3 separate regions of the Homo sapiens genome follow, and all the other regions are linked to region 3. The links come from fine-mapping of genetic effects on gene expression. A gene starts in region 3. Each other region holds a variant in brackets. All regions are shown on one strand. Distances are from middle to middle. Region 1 overlaps FNBP1 (formin binding protein 1). Region 2 overlaps FNBP1 (formin binding protein 1). Region 3 holds the start of FNBP1 (formin binding protein 1).

Evidence for each region. PIP is the estimated chance that this variant, and not a neighbour inherited with it, causes the effect. A credible set is the group of variants that fine-mapping cannot tell apart.
Region 1: its variant is the best candidate, but not a certain one, in a credible set for the expression of FNBP1 in Th1 cells (Schmiedel 2018, PIP 0.87).
Region 2: its variant is the best candidate, but not a certain one, in a credible set for the expression of FNBP1 in whole blood (INTERVAL, PIP 0.68).

The regions. Positions count from the first base shown.
Region 1 is chr9:129,905,297-129,909,535 of GRCh38, reverse strand. It overlaps FNBP1 (formin binding protein 1), which reads left to right. Exons shown (of 17, transcript NM_015033.3): 12 at 537-646. Among named protein-coding and RNA genes, the nearest start is that of MIR6855, 38 kb to the right of the region's middle. The variant T/C (reference allele first, on the strand shown) is at 2,418.
Region 2 is chr9:129,911,850-129,916,088 of GRCh38, reverse strand. It overlaps FNBP1 (formin binding protein 1), which reads left to right. Exons shown (of 17, transcript NM_015033.3): 11 at 109-123. Among named protein-coding and RNA genes, the nearest start is that of MIR6855, 44 kb to the right of the region's middle. The variant G/A (reference allele first, on the strand shown) is at 2,674.
Region 3 is chr9:130,041,355-130,045,593 of GRCh38, reverse strand. FNBP1 (formin binding protein 1) reads left to right here and starts at 2,405. Exons shown (of 17, transcript NM_015033.3): 1 at 2,405-2,642. The coding sequence starts at 2,619. RefSeq lists silencers at 2,143-2,702, 2,883-3,042.

The sequences.
Region 1 (4,239 bases), 140 kb after region 3:
TCTGAGGAATGTGATGTCCCATCTGTCACTTTACAGGGGTGGAGACTTTTGGCCTCAGCCTGTGTGAAGAGACTGGCAGGAATACTCACGCTAGGGAAAAGGCAGCAGCTAGGCGTGCAGTGGTTGATGGGGTTTGTATTAAGGAAACATAAATTTCATTAACACTTCAGTGTTGCCACTGACATTGATGGTAACACTTGGTAGGAAAAGGAAGAAGACTGTCTCAAAATGTGTTTTTCATGGATTCTCCCTAGAGTCAGAAGTATCTCTTACTCTCCTTTACTGTAGCGTTGCTCACTGCTTTTTCTGGGGCATTCTGGCCAGCATCCATGGAACTGGGAATGGTTTATGGGACTTATGCAGTTTGCATGCATTGATTTTTGCATCTCGGCTGGGTGTAGTGGGAAAGAGCTTAATCTATTTCATGAAGCCACATGCAGATGTCTGCACCCCCCATGGCTGCAGGCTTTGCTTTCAGCCTTCTTTCAAGGAAAGCCTGGGGCTTTCTGGTTTCTCATTTATATTTGTGTCTGCAGGGTGCAACACCGGAGGATTTCAGCAACCTCCCACCTGAACAAAGAAGGAAAAAGCTGCAGCAGAAAGTCGATGAGTTAAATAAAGAAATTCAGAAGGAGATGGATCAAAGGTATAGTGCATCAATATGACTTATTAAGAAATTCAAGGCCAGGCGCAGTGGCTCACAACCTGTAATCCCAGCACTTTGGGAGGCTGCGGTGGGTGGATCACCTGAGGTCAAGAGATCAAGACCATCCTGGCCTACATGGTGAAACCCCGTCTCTACTAAAAATATAAAAACTAGCCAGGTGCAGTGGCACACGTCTGTAGTCCCAGTTACTCAGGAGGCTGAGGCAGCAGAATTGCTTGAACTCAGGAGGCAGAGGTTGCAGTGAGCCAAGATCATGCCACTTCACTCCAGCCTGGGCAACAGAGCAAGCCTCTGTCTCAAAAAAATAAAAAATAATAATAATTAAAAATAAAATAAAAATTAAAAGAAAAGAAATTCAAGTTCAGGCTGGGCATGGTGGTTCACACCTGTAATCCCAGCACTTTGGGAGGCTGAGGCAGGAAGATCGCTTGAGTCCGGGAGTTCAAGACCAGCCCAGGCAACATAGCAAAAACCCTAAAAAAAAAAAAAAGAAAAAAACTAGCCAGGCATGATGGTGTGCACCTGTAGTCCCAGCTATTTGGGAGGCTGAAGTGGAAGGATCACCTGAGCCCAGGAGGTCCTGGCTGCAGTGAGCTATGATCATGCCACTGCACTCCAGCCTGGGCAACAGAGTGAGACCCTATCTCAAAAAAAAAAAAAAAAAGAGAGAGAGACCAGCCTTGGCAACATAGTGAGACCCCATCTCTACAAAAATAAACAAAAGTAGCTGGGTGTGATGGCACACCTGTAGTCCCAGCTACTTGGGAGGCTGAGGTGGGGAGAATTGCTTTAGCCTGGGAGGTGGAGGCTGCAGTGAGCTGTTTGCTTAAGAATCAAAACCCAGCTGGGCACAGTGGCTCACACCTGTAATCCCAGCACTTTGGGAGGCCGAGGCGGGCAGATCACAAGGTCAGGAGATCGAGACCATCCTGGCTAACACGGTGAAACCCTGTCTCTACTAAAATTACAAAAAATTAGCTCGCATGGTGGCGGGCGCCTATAGTCCCAGCTACTTGGGAGGCTGAGACAGGAGAATGGCATGAACCCGGGAGGCGGAGCTTGCAGTGAGCCGAGATTGCGCCACTGCACTCCAGCCTGGGTGATGGAGCGAGACTCTGTCTCAAAACAAAACAAAAAAATCAAAACCCATTTGCCATAAAGCAGAGATGCCATAGAGGAGGAGGGCCTCTGTGAGGGGAAGGTGCATTCATTAAAACAGCTGTAGGAAAAGCCAGTCAAATAACACACACACACACACACACACACACACACACACACACACACACACCCTCACTCCTAGCAAGAGCTAAGGATCTGTCTCAAGAGGTATACCACTGCATTCCACCTTGGGCAACAGAGCAAGACCCCGTCTCCAAGAAAAAAGCACAAAGTAGGATGATAGATGTTAAATACCAAGCACTCCAGATACCCTGGGGTCAAATCTGGCTCTATCAGTTACTACTGCTGATGTGTCAGTGTGCATAACATGCTTGGAACCGTGCCTGGCACATAAGTGTCTGCGAAATAAAATGAATCAATATGTTAAAGGTAAACAAACTACGTGTTTCAATTAAAAGATATTCTCAGAATGGACCAAAAAATTAAAAACCCAATACACAAAGCAATGTATGCTATCTACAAAAGACACATCTAACTTATAAGCTCTAGAAATGTAGAAGTAAAAAAATGGGAGAGAAGATATACCATGCAAGGGCCAATCAAAAGGAAACTGGTGTTACAAGGCTGGCTT[T/C]TGGGCTGAATAAAAGGAAAGAAAAAAAAAAAACGTGCTTGGGCCAGGCGCAGTGGCTCACGCCTGTAATCCCAGCACTTTGGGAGGCGGAGGCGGGCGGATCACGAGGTCAGGAGATTGAGACCATCCTGGCCAACATGGTGAAACCCCATCTCTACTAAAAATACAAAAATTAGCTGGGAGTGGTGGTGTGTGCCTGTAATCCCAGCTACTAGGGAGGCTGAGGCAGGAGAATCCCTTCAACCAGGGAGTCAGAGGTTGCAGTGAGCCAAGACTGTGCTGCTGCACTCCAGCCTGGCAACAGAGCGAGACTCTGTCTCAAAAAAAAAAAGTGCTCAAAGTTAGTATAGAAGACTTAAATTATACATTTAGTAACATTGACCTAATACATAAACATCTAACAACTGCAGGGCACACACTGTATTAGCCCATTCTCATGCTGCTAATAAAGACATATTTGAGGCTGAGTAATTTATAAAGAAAAAGAGGTTTCATGGACTCATAGTTCCACATGGATAGGGAGGCCTCACAATCATGGCGGAAGGCAAAGGAGGAGCAAAGGCATGTCTTACATGGTGGCATTCGGCAGAGCTTGTGCAAGGGAACTGCCCTTTATAAAACCATTGGAGCTCATAAGACTCACTATTACGAGAGCAGCCTGGGAAAAACCGCCCCCATGATTCAATTACTTCCCACTGGGTCCCTCCCATGACACATGGGGATATGGGAGCTACAATTCAAGATGAGATTTGGGCCAGGGCACAGCTAAACCATATCAACACTCTTTTCAAGCCCACATAAGAACATTTTCAAAATTGAGTATATCTTTGTTTCACAAAGCAAATCTCAATAAATATCAAAGGAAATGTATCATTCAAGCTATATTATCTATATTCTGCAATTAAGCTGGATACCAATAACAAATATTAAGAAATTGGCCAGGCGCGGTGGCTCATGCCTGTAATCCCAGCACTTTGGGAGGCTGAGGCAGGCAGATCACCTGAGGTCGGGAGTTCAACACCAGCCTGACCAACATGAAGAAACCCCATCTCTACTAAAAATACAAAATTAGCCAGGCGTGGTGGCGCATGTCTGTAATCCCAGCTACTCGGGAGGATGAGGCAGGAGAGTCGCTTGAACCCAGGAGGCAGAGGTTGCAGTGAGCTGAGATCGCGCCATTACATTCCAGCCTAGGCAACAAGAGCAAAACTCAGTCTCAAAAAAAAACAAAAAAAAAAAGAAATATGCCTCTAAATAAGCCACAAACTAAACAAAAAATCATAGTAGATATTAGAAAGTATATGAAATAGAATTGAACTTTAACATACATTCTATATATAGTTTGTGGGATGTCCTTAAAGCCACGCATATAGAGAGATTTATTGCTCTGAATGCATATTAAAAACAGAGGTAAAAATCACTGAGCCTTAGCTCACTTAGATCCTCACTTACGATCTATCTCAAGAAGTCGGAAAAAGAACAGCAAATTAAGCCCAAAGGAAATAGAAGCGGCTGGGCATGGTGGCTCATGCCTGGAATCCCAGCACTTTGGAGACTGAGGTGGGTGGATCATCTGAGGTCAGGAGTTCAAGACCAGCTTGGCCAACATGGCAAAACCCTGTCTCTACTAAAAATACAAAAATTAGCTGGGCATGATGGGGCGCCTGTAGTCCCAGCTACTCAGGAGGCTGAGGCAGGAGAGTCGCTTGAACCCGGGAGGCAGAGGGTGCAGTGAGCCAAGATCATACCACTGCATTCCAGCCTAGGCGACAGAGTAAGACCCTATCTCAAAAATAATTAACAAAATATATATATATATATA
Region 2 (4,239 bases), 130 kb after region 3:
GGCGGAACTGACCAAGTTCCTCTTCTTCTGATGTGTTGTTGTTTTTTTTTCTCTTTCTCTCTCTCTTTCTCTCTATTTTTCCCATACCTCTCCAATTTTTACATGAAGCTTTCTCTCAAGCTGGTAAGCACAATTGTTCCATGCATGTCCTGAGTCTAATCAGGTTTTCTGGCGTGTCTTTTATGAATGCTATGCCATGCACAACGTATCTTCAAAGTTAACTTGGTTTGTGTTTCTCTTACGTGTGCTTTTGTTGGTGTTTCCTTATTAGACTTCTTGGATACAAAGGTCCAGAATCTAATAGAGGTGATCTTAATCTTTTCAAGTTGCTAAGAAAATTAACATTTAACTCACGACTTGGTGTTATTCCTGGGGCCTTGAGAGGAGGACAAATGTTAAAGTGTCTATATAAATATTAACGTAAAGGCCGGGCGCAGTGGCTCACGCCTGTAATCCTAGCACTTTGGGAGGCCAAGGTGGGTGGATTGCCTGAGCTCAGGAGTTCGAGACCAACCCGGGCAACACGGTGAAACCCCATCTCTACAAAAAACCAAAAAATTAGCCGGGCGTGGCAGCGTGCGCCTGTAGTCCCAGCTACTTGGGAGGCTGAGGCAGAGAACTGCTTGAACCCGGGAGGTGAAGGGTGCAGTGAGCCGAGATTATACCACTGGACTTCCAGCCTGGGTGACAGAGCAAGACTCTGTCTCCAAATATATATATATGAACGTAAATATTAAATCTTGGGGGGTGTCTGTTGGATCATTTTGAATAAAAGTAAATTAATAGTTGAAAAATGTTGCTATTAGAGAACCATAGAAGTAGATGAAAAAATCTGGGAGCCTGGAGGAGCTGTGCAGGAATGATCCCAGCCAGCAGCTGCTACCCAGGTTTGAGGCCACCTGTGGGAATGGAAGACTGTGGAATCTTTATGGTGCGACGTAGATATGTTGGTGCCTTGTGCATAGCTGATTCAAGAGGCCACAAGATGATTTCATGGACAGTGAAAAGAGCCTCCTAAGCCTTTTTAGAATTATTCACTCAGTGTTTTGTGTCGTTTCTACTTAATTGTATATGCCTAGTCAACAGTCAAACTAATCATTAAATTTATTAAAAGTAACTAACATAACCTATAACTATACTTCAAATATGTATAATAGTTTCATAGTCTTCTCAAACTCCACAGCTAAGAATATCCTAAAATAATGGACAGTGATCAACTGTGACAGTTCTACTAGGAGTAAGATCAGCACTATAAGCACACTATTGATAACCTAGGATAGTATTTTATGGTGAGATATATATATATATATATATATATATATATATATATAGACATATGTATGTATATACATAATTTTTTCAACATGACTTAGTATTTGGTAATGGACCCAACCTTAAAGAAAAAGAGTATTTTATTAAATTAAATAAACATTTCTTAGGCTGTGAAATAAAATCCTGAGAAGAGTCTTTGATTAAGGTCTCTACATGAAGGAAAGAGATCTAGATACTTAAATGAACTACAAGTTCATCTGCAGTATGAACTTGGGAGAAACTGGATCTATTGACTAGGAGGCCTTCTCAGCTGCCAGGGTTTCCTTATTTCCCTTTATTCATTGTTTGTCTGGGTGCTAGGAGCAAAAGGTAATATTTTTAGGCAGTCTTTCTGTTTGAAATACAAATTATTTTACCAACTTGGTATTGAATTGTTGCTTTATATCATTACCTTGAAGGCAACAAAGAAGTGAAGCGCTGGCTGGGCACGGTGGTTTGTGCCTGGAATCCCAGTGCTTTGGAAGGCTGAGGCAGGAAGATTGCCTGAGCCCAGGAGCTCAAGGTTGCAGTGAGCTATCATTGCGCCACTGCACTCCAGCTTGGGTGACAGAGTGAGACCATGTCTGAAAAAAAAAAAAAAGACAAAAGAAAAAAGATGTGGGACCAGGTGTGGTGGCTCACGCCTGTAATCTCTGCACTTTGGGAGGTGGGGGCAGGCAGATCATTTGCGCCCAGGAGTTCTAGACCAGCCTGAGCAGCATGGTGAAACCTGACTCTACAAACAAATACAAAAATTAGCCAGGCATGGTGGTCTGTGCCTGTGGTCCCAGCTATACTGGAGGCTGAGGCAGAAGGATTGATTGAGCCCAGGAGGTTGAGGCTGCTCCAGCCTTGGGTGATAGAATGAAACCCTGTCTCAAAAAAAAAAACTATAAAACAAAACAAAAAACCCAAAATCTGAAAAAGTAGTATTACACGGAGCTTGTGCTATTTTGGGGTGGGGGGAAGCTGTCAACAAGCAAGGGTTTGATTTTTTTTTCTTTTAGGAGACAGAGTCTCGCTCTGTCCCCCAGGCTGGAGTGCAGTGGCGCGATCTCGGCTCACTGCAACCTCCACCTCCTGGGTTCAAGCGATTCTCATGCCTCAGCTTCTCGAGTAGCTGGGATTATAGGGGCGCGCCACCACACCCAGCTAATTTTTGTATTTTTAGTAGAGACGGGGTTTCACCATGCTGGCCAGGCTAATCTCGAGCTCCTGACCTCAGGTGATCCGCCCACCTCAGCCCCCCACAGTGCTGGGATTACATGCGTGAGCCACCAGGCCCGGCCAGGTTTGATTTTATTAGTACATAGAACAAGCTTCTCTTACAGAACTCCAGCCACTTAAAACATAGGTACATGT[G/A]TATGACCCTCTCTTCCCATACCAACTCCTCCTGTTATGGCCTGTCTTTGTTGTTTTCTTATCTATTTATAAGTTATCAGTACAATGTGTTTTACTGATAGATTTCTTTGCACCTGTTTATACACCTGCACAGAGGCTAAAGCTGTTGTCCAGTGTGGTAGCCACTACCATATGTAGCTATTGAGTTTTTTGTTTTTGTTTTTGTTTTGAGATGGAGTCTCGCTCTGTCACTGAGGATGGAGTGCAGTGGCATGATCCTGGCTCACTGCATCCTCCGCCTCCCGGGTTGAAGCGTTTCTCCTGATTCAGCCTCCCGAGTAGCTGGGATTACAGGCAACTGCCATCATGCCTAGCTAATTTTTGTAGAGACAGGGTTTCACCATGTTGGCCAGGCTGGTCTTGAACTGACCTCAGGTGATCCGCTCACCTCGGCCTCCCAAAGTGCTGGGATTACAGGTGTGAGCCACCACGCCCAACCGCTGTTGAGTTTTAATTAATTAAAATTAAATAAATTTTTAAAAATTCAGTTCCACAATTTCACCAGCCACATTTCAAATGCTTCACAGCCACACATGGCTTCTGTGTTGGAAAGAGCGGCCATAGAACATTGCCATCACTGTAGAAAGTTCTGTTGGACTCACAGCACATAGCAAGGCTCAGCACATATTAACGAGGTGAATGTTGACCACTTGCCAGATTTTGTGACTTTTTTTTTTTTTTTTTTTGAGATGGAGTTTTACTCATGTTGTCCAGGCTGGAGTGCGCAGTAGCGCAATCTCAGCTCACCACAACCTCCACCTCCCGGGTTCAAGCGATTTTCCTGCCTCAGCCTCCTGAGTAGCTGGGATTACAGACGGGCGCCACCACGCCTGGCTAATTTTGTATTTTTAGTAGAGACGGGGTTTTTCCATGTTGGTCAGGCTCGTCTCAAACTCCCGACCTCAGGTGATCCACCCGCCTCGGCCTCCCAAAGTGCCAAGATTACAGGCATGAGCTACCGCGCCTGGCCTAGATTTCCTGATTTCTGAAGCAGTGTATCTTAGCATTGTGTTTTGCTGTATTCCAGCTTTTAAAAAATTCTCAGTTCTGGAAAACATGCTCATTTGATAAAACTCAAACCGTTTTTCCTCTGCTGTTCCACTATGACAATCAACAGAGAAGATTTCTGTGACCAAATATGTGGAGGCTTCCGCTATATATCAAGCAGCAGACACTAGCTGGGTGTCCTTTAATTCAATTCCATTCTGATGCTATCTACCTGGAGATAGTGGCTGATCCTGGGGGTTGAGGGCTCAGTCCTGAAGGACTGCCCCCTCCTTCCCACCAGTCGCAAGTCCAGGCTTCCAGGACTTCTGATGGACTAGCTTCAAGTTGGGGTTCCCCTGACCCTCTCTTTGGGTTCAATTAATTTGCAGGAGCAGCTCACAGAACTCAGGGAAACACTTATATTTACTGGTTTGTTTTTGGGTTTTTTTTTTTTTTTTTGAGACAGAATCTCGCCCGTCGCCCAGGCTGGAGTGTAATGGCGTGATCTTGGCTCACCACAACCTCCGCCTCCCAGGTTCA
Region 3 (4,239 bases):
ACAATCTCCTGCTTACTCGTCTTAAAAAGTTTCATCTTCATGTGGTCTCTTTTTTTCTTCTGCTGTCCCTTCCTCTTCCTCTTTCTCCTCTTTAAAGCAGCAGGTTGTTTTACTTCTTGATTAGAGTATTTTCACAAGTGGTCACTGTTTTTGAGAAGTCTCCAATAACTTGGTCAAGATTAGATCATTGTATTTGACTAAAAAGTCAAGCCCTGGCAGGAAGGTGATTACTGAGGCAATGTCTTGTTAGATAAACCTGCATTGCATGTACCGTTTCCAAATTTTAGCAGACTAAACTGTGCAGCATTGTTTGAATTTCCCCCTCCAACTCACTCTGGCTATTAATCTGCCTTAGGAGATAGGTAGCTGGCCGTTCTCATTGTTATATATCTAGCAGTCTCTGGAGGAAAGAGAATTCAGACCTGGTAACTGAGAGCAAAATATTTATACAGACACAAGAATGGGGGTGGGCAGGAAGGGAGGGTTGTAACTGAAAAAAGGCAGACCAAAACAGTTTTGACAACTTAAATTTATTGTAACTGCCCAACAAAGGAAGTAGAGTTGGAGGTTTATCTGCAAGAGGTTTTTTTTTGTTTTGTTTTTTGTTTAGTAGCTCCACCTCTTAATTTATTATTATTATTCATTTTATTTTATTTTTTGAGACAGTCTCGCTCTGTCACCCAGGCTGGAGTGCAGTGGCACAATCTTGGCTCACTCCAACTTCTGCCTCCCGGGTTCAAGCGATTCTCTTGCCTCAGCCTCCTGAGTAGCTGGGATTACAGGCGCCCTGTCACCACGCCCAGCTAACTTTTGTGTTTTTAGTAGAGACGGGGTTTCTCCATGTTGGCCAGGCTGCTCTCAAACTCCTGACCTCAGATGATCCACTCACTTCTGCCTCCCAAAGTGTTGGGATTACAGGCGTGAGCCACCATGCCCGGCTTTAATTCATTATTGTTAATATTTTTGAGACAGGGTCTTGCTCTGTTGCTCAAGCTGGAGGGCAATGGCACCATCATGGCTCACTGCAACTTCAACCTTCTAGGCTCAAGCGATCCTCCTGTCTCAGTCTCCCAAGTAGCTGGGACCACAGGTGCATGCCACCATGCCCAGCTAACTTTTTTTTTTTTCTTTTTGTAGAGACAGGGTCTTGCGATGTTGCCCAGGCTGGTCTCAAATTCCTGGCCTCCAGCCATCCTCCCACCTGGGCCTCCTGATGTGCTGGGATTACAGGCGTGAGCCACCAGACCCGGGTTAGCTCCACCTTTTAATGGAGGAGAATGATAAGCAGGTTGAAAATGGTGGGGTGGGATTGGAGAAATGCATCATCGTAAAATATTTTTTAACTGGGGGCCCATGTTGGGAGTCGCACGGTTTCTCAGAAAAGGATCCAGTAGTAGCATTAACCGAGGGAGAAAGATAAGCTGTGGGGAAAGGGCTAGTGATTCAGGAGTTGGAATTCCAAACATTTTCCATAGCTTGTCAGGAACATTTGTGCAGACCTTTGGATATATAGAGAGGGAGTCCGTCTGCTGATAAAATGAGCGCTGGGTTTACCAACCTTCGGCCTTGGCCCACCCCTGATCCTCACCGCCGGGCAGTGAGATGGACACGTTATTTGCCTCCATTTGGTGGACTGCGCTCTGCGCTTCCAGAGGTGGAGCAATTGTCCGCCTCCGCCCGGCCAGCACGTGCGGGAGGCTGGATTTGAACCAAACAAGTTATCTGTGTACCCCACGCCTTTGCTTTTACCCACTAGGCGGTAACGTGATTTCACGCCTGAGAGTTTCTTGGCTGAACAAGTTGGAAATCACTGGTTTCAGAGATTGGAAATCACTGGGTGCACGCCCCTGGATTCTTTCCCTAGCCACTCGAGGCCGTCGCGCTTGCCTCGACGTCTCTATTCGCACAGCGCGCAGTTACCACCGCCCCACTCCCACCGCGCCAGCCTGCGGGACTCTCGGGCTTCCCTCGGGCGGTGGGAAAAGAGCCTCCCGGGCTGACTCTGCTCGGCGCGCATGGCTGCCAGGGGAAAGTATTGTCCTTAAATCCAGAGCGGCGATACGCGCAGGGGAGCGATCTCAGACCGCGGCGGAGCATCGGTGATCCCAGGGCCTGCCGCGTTCCAAGGCAAGCGCTAGTACTGCGAGCAGACAGTGGTCACTAAGAAGTCATTACCAGATTGGCAGGGGGAGTCCTAGGGATCCGGGTCCCGCCGTCCCTCACACCTCCCTCCGCGTCCTTCCGGACCCCAGGGCGACGCGGACCCGGCCGGGGGAGCCCGGGGGAGGGGGCCGGGCCGGGGTGGGGCGGGCGCGCGTGCGCGAGCTGTCAGACCGGCCCCGCCCCTCCCCTCCCGCCCCTCCCCCGCTCTCCGGGTGTAGGGCGGGCGGGCGCTGCGGCGGCCGCGGCTGCTGCTTCCTCGGGCCATTTTGCTGTGGAGCGGCGGGGAGGAGGAGCCGCCGAGGAGACCCCGGGCGAGGAGCTGCGAGCCGGAGGAGGCCGCGCGGACTCCGGGCTTTCCGCCGTCGCGGGGATCTCGGGGGGCAAAGGGATCGCCGGGGAGGGGGACCAGAGAGCCGCGCCCGCCGCGCGGAGCGCCCCTTCGCGTCCCCTGCACCATGAGCTGGGGCACCGAGCTCTGGGTGAGTGAGGGGCTGGGCCCGCGGGCAGATGCGGGGCGCGCGCTGCGTTTCCCCGCGGCCTGGGGAGGGGGCGCGGGCCGCGCTGCTGGGCGGAGGCGAGGGCGCGCTGGTCGGGGTCCTCGCGGCCTGGGGAGGAGGCGGGGTTCCAATGCCCCTCGTCCGCCTTGGCCCGAGCAGGAGGTGCGGGCCGGCTTGTCCTTCGGAGGCGAGGGGAGTTGGTGCGGGTCCCCGGCGGCCTGAGGAACGGCGCGGGCGGGCCTCCCTGTCCCCGGCGCCCCGGAGCGGGCCGTGTGTGTCGGGCCGAGCCCTAATCCCCCGGGGCGAGCCGCGGATGCCCGGGGAGGGCCGGGACCGGGCGTGGGGGCGTGGAGGCCCCGGCTGCGCGGCGCTGCGTTGGGTCTCGGGGCGCCCCGGCCGCGAGTTCTGTCCTGGCTCCGCGGAGGCGCTGGCGGATCGGGCACTTCCCCGGGAGCGGGGCGGCCGGGGCGAGCGCCGGGGGTCGGGTTTTGGGGTGCTGGGGCGAGAGTGCGGTCTTCGCTCTGGAGGCGAGGACTTCTGGCCCGTGGCGGCTCCGGGCGCACTTGTTCTTTCGGGGTAGCTCAATCCTGAGTGGGATGTGGGCACTGCGACGTCTGGTCTGGAGGGGAAAGTGGGAGTTAGGGAGAGATCTTACGTGATCTACCTCAGGAAGAGGCGTTCGCGGGGTCAATGATCTTTAACGGTTGCTCGGAGAATAGTTTCCAGTGGGGAAAGTTGGCGGTGAGGGGCGCCTTGCGGGGATGCTTGGCCGGGGGATGCGCACGGTAAACGGGCAGCCCTCAGGGCTGAGGGCCGTCCCCGGAAAGGCGAGGGGCTGGCTGTGGATGGAGCTCTTTTCCTGCCGTCCCCGGATTCCTGGGGAAATCACTGGGCAGGGGATGGGCAGTGCGGCGGCCCGGGAAGGAGCAGACGAAATCTCAGTTACTGCACTGAAATGCCCTCAAGATGAGCCATTTCCCAGGATGAACTCTAAAGTGCCTGAACTACCTTTTGGAATTCTATTTGCAAAGGGTGTGGAGGAGAAAGTGTAGGGTGGTGTTGCTATCTGAGATGAGGCCAAGAAATCTCATATCAAAATAAAACAAGGTTAGAGCAATTACAGAAACAGAGCACATCCTCCCTTGTTTTTTGTTTTGTTTTCTTTTGCTTTAATTGTTTTTACATAACCATTTGTTAGGTACAGAAGCAGCTACGGTTGTTATTACCAAAATCCTGAGGGCAATAGCTCCCTTAAATTAAGATAATTCATTTTATAAACATCTTCTGCCTAAAAGGGATTCATGACAAAATTTCCGCTGATGTTTACAAGTATCCATTTTGAAAATAAAATAGTTTAAAATATTTGCACACACCAGTTTAGGCAAAATCTATGACTTTGAGTACCGTATTGAAGTTTCTTTCCTCTTCTAATCCTTCCACTCCCTTTAGCTCTCTTTAGCTTATCTGGGGTGGGGAAGCAAATCAGAAGTAATCTTTGTCAAGACAGTAGAAATTGTGGCACAATTTTTTTTTCACTTGTTCAGACAGGTGGATGGAATTATGGAGGGAAAATGTACAA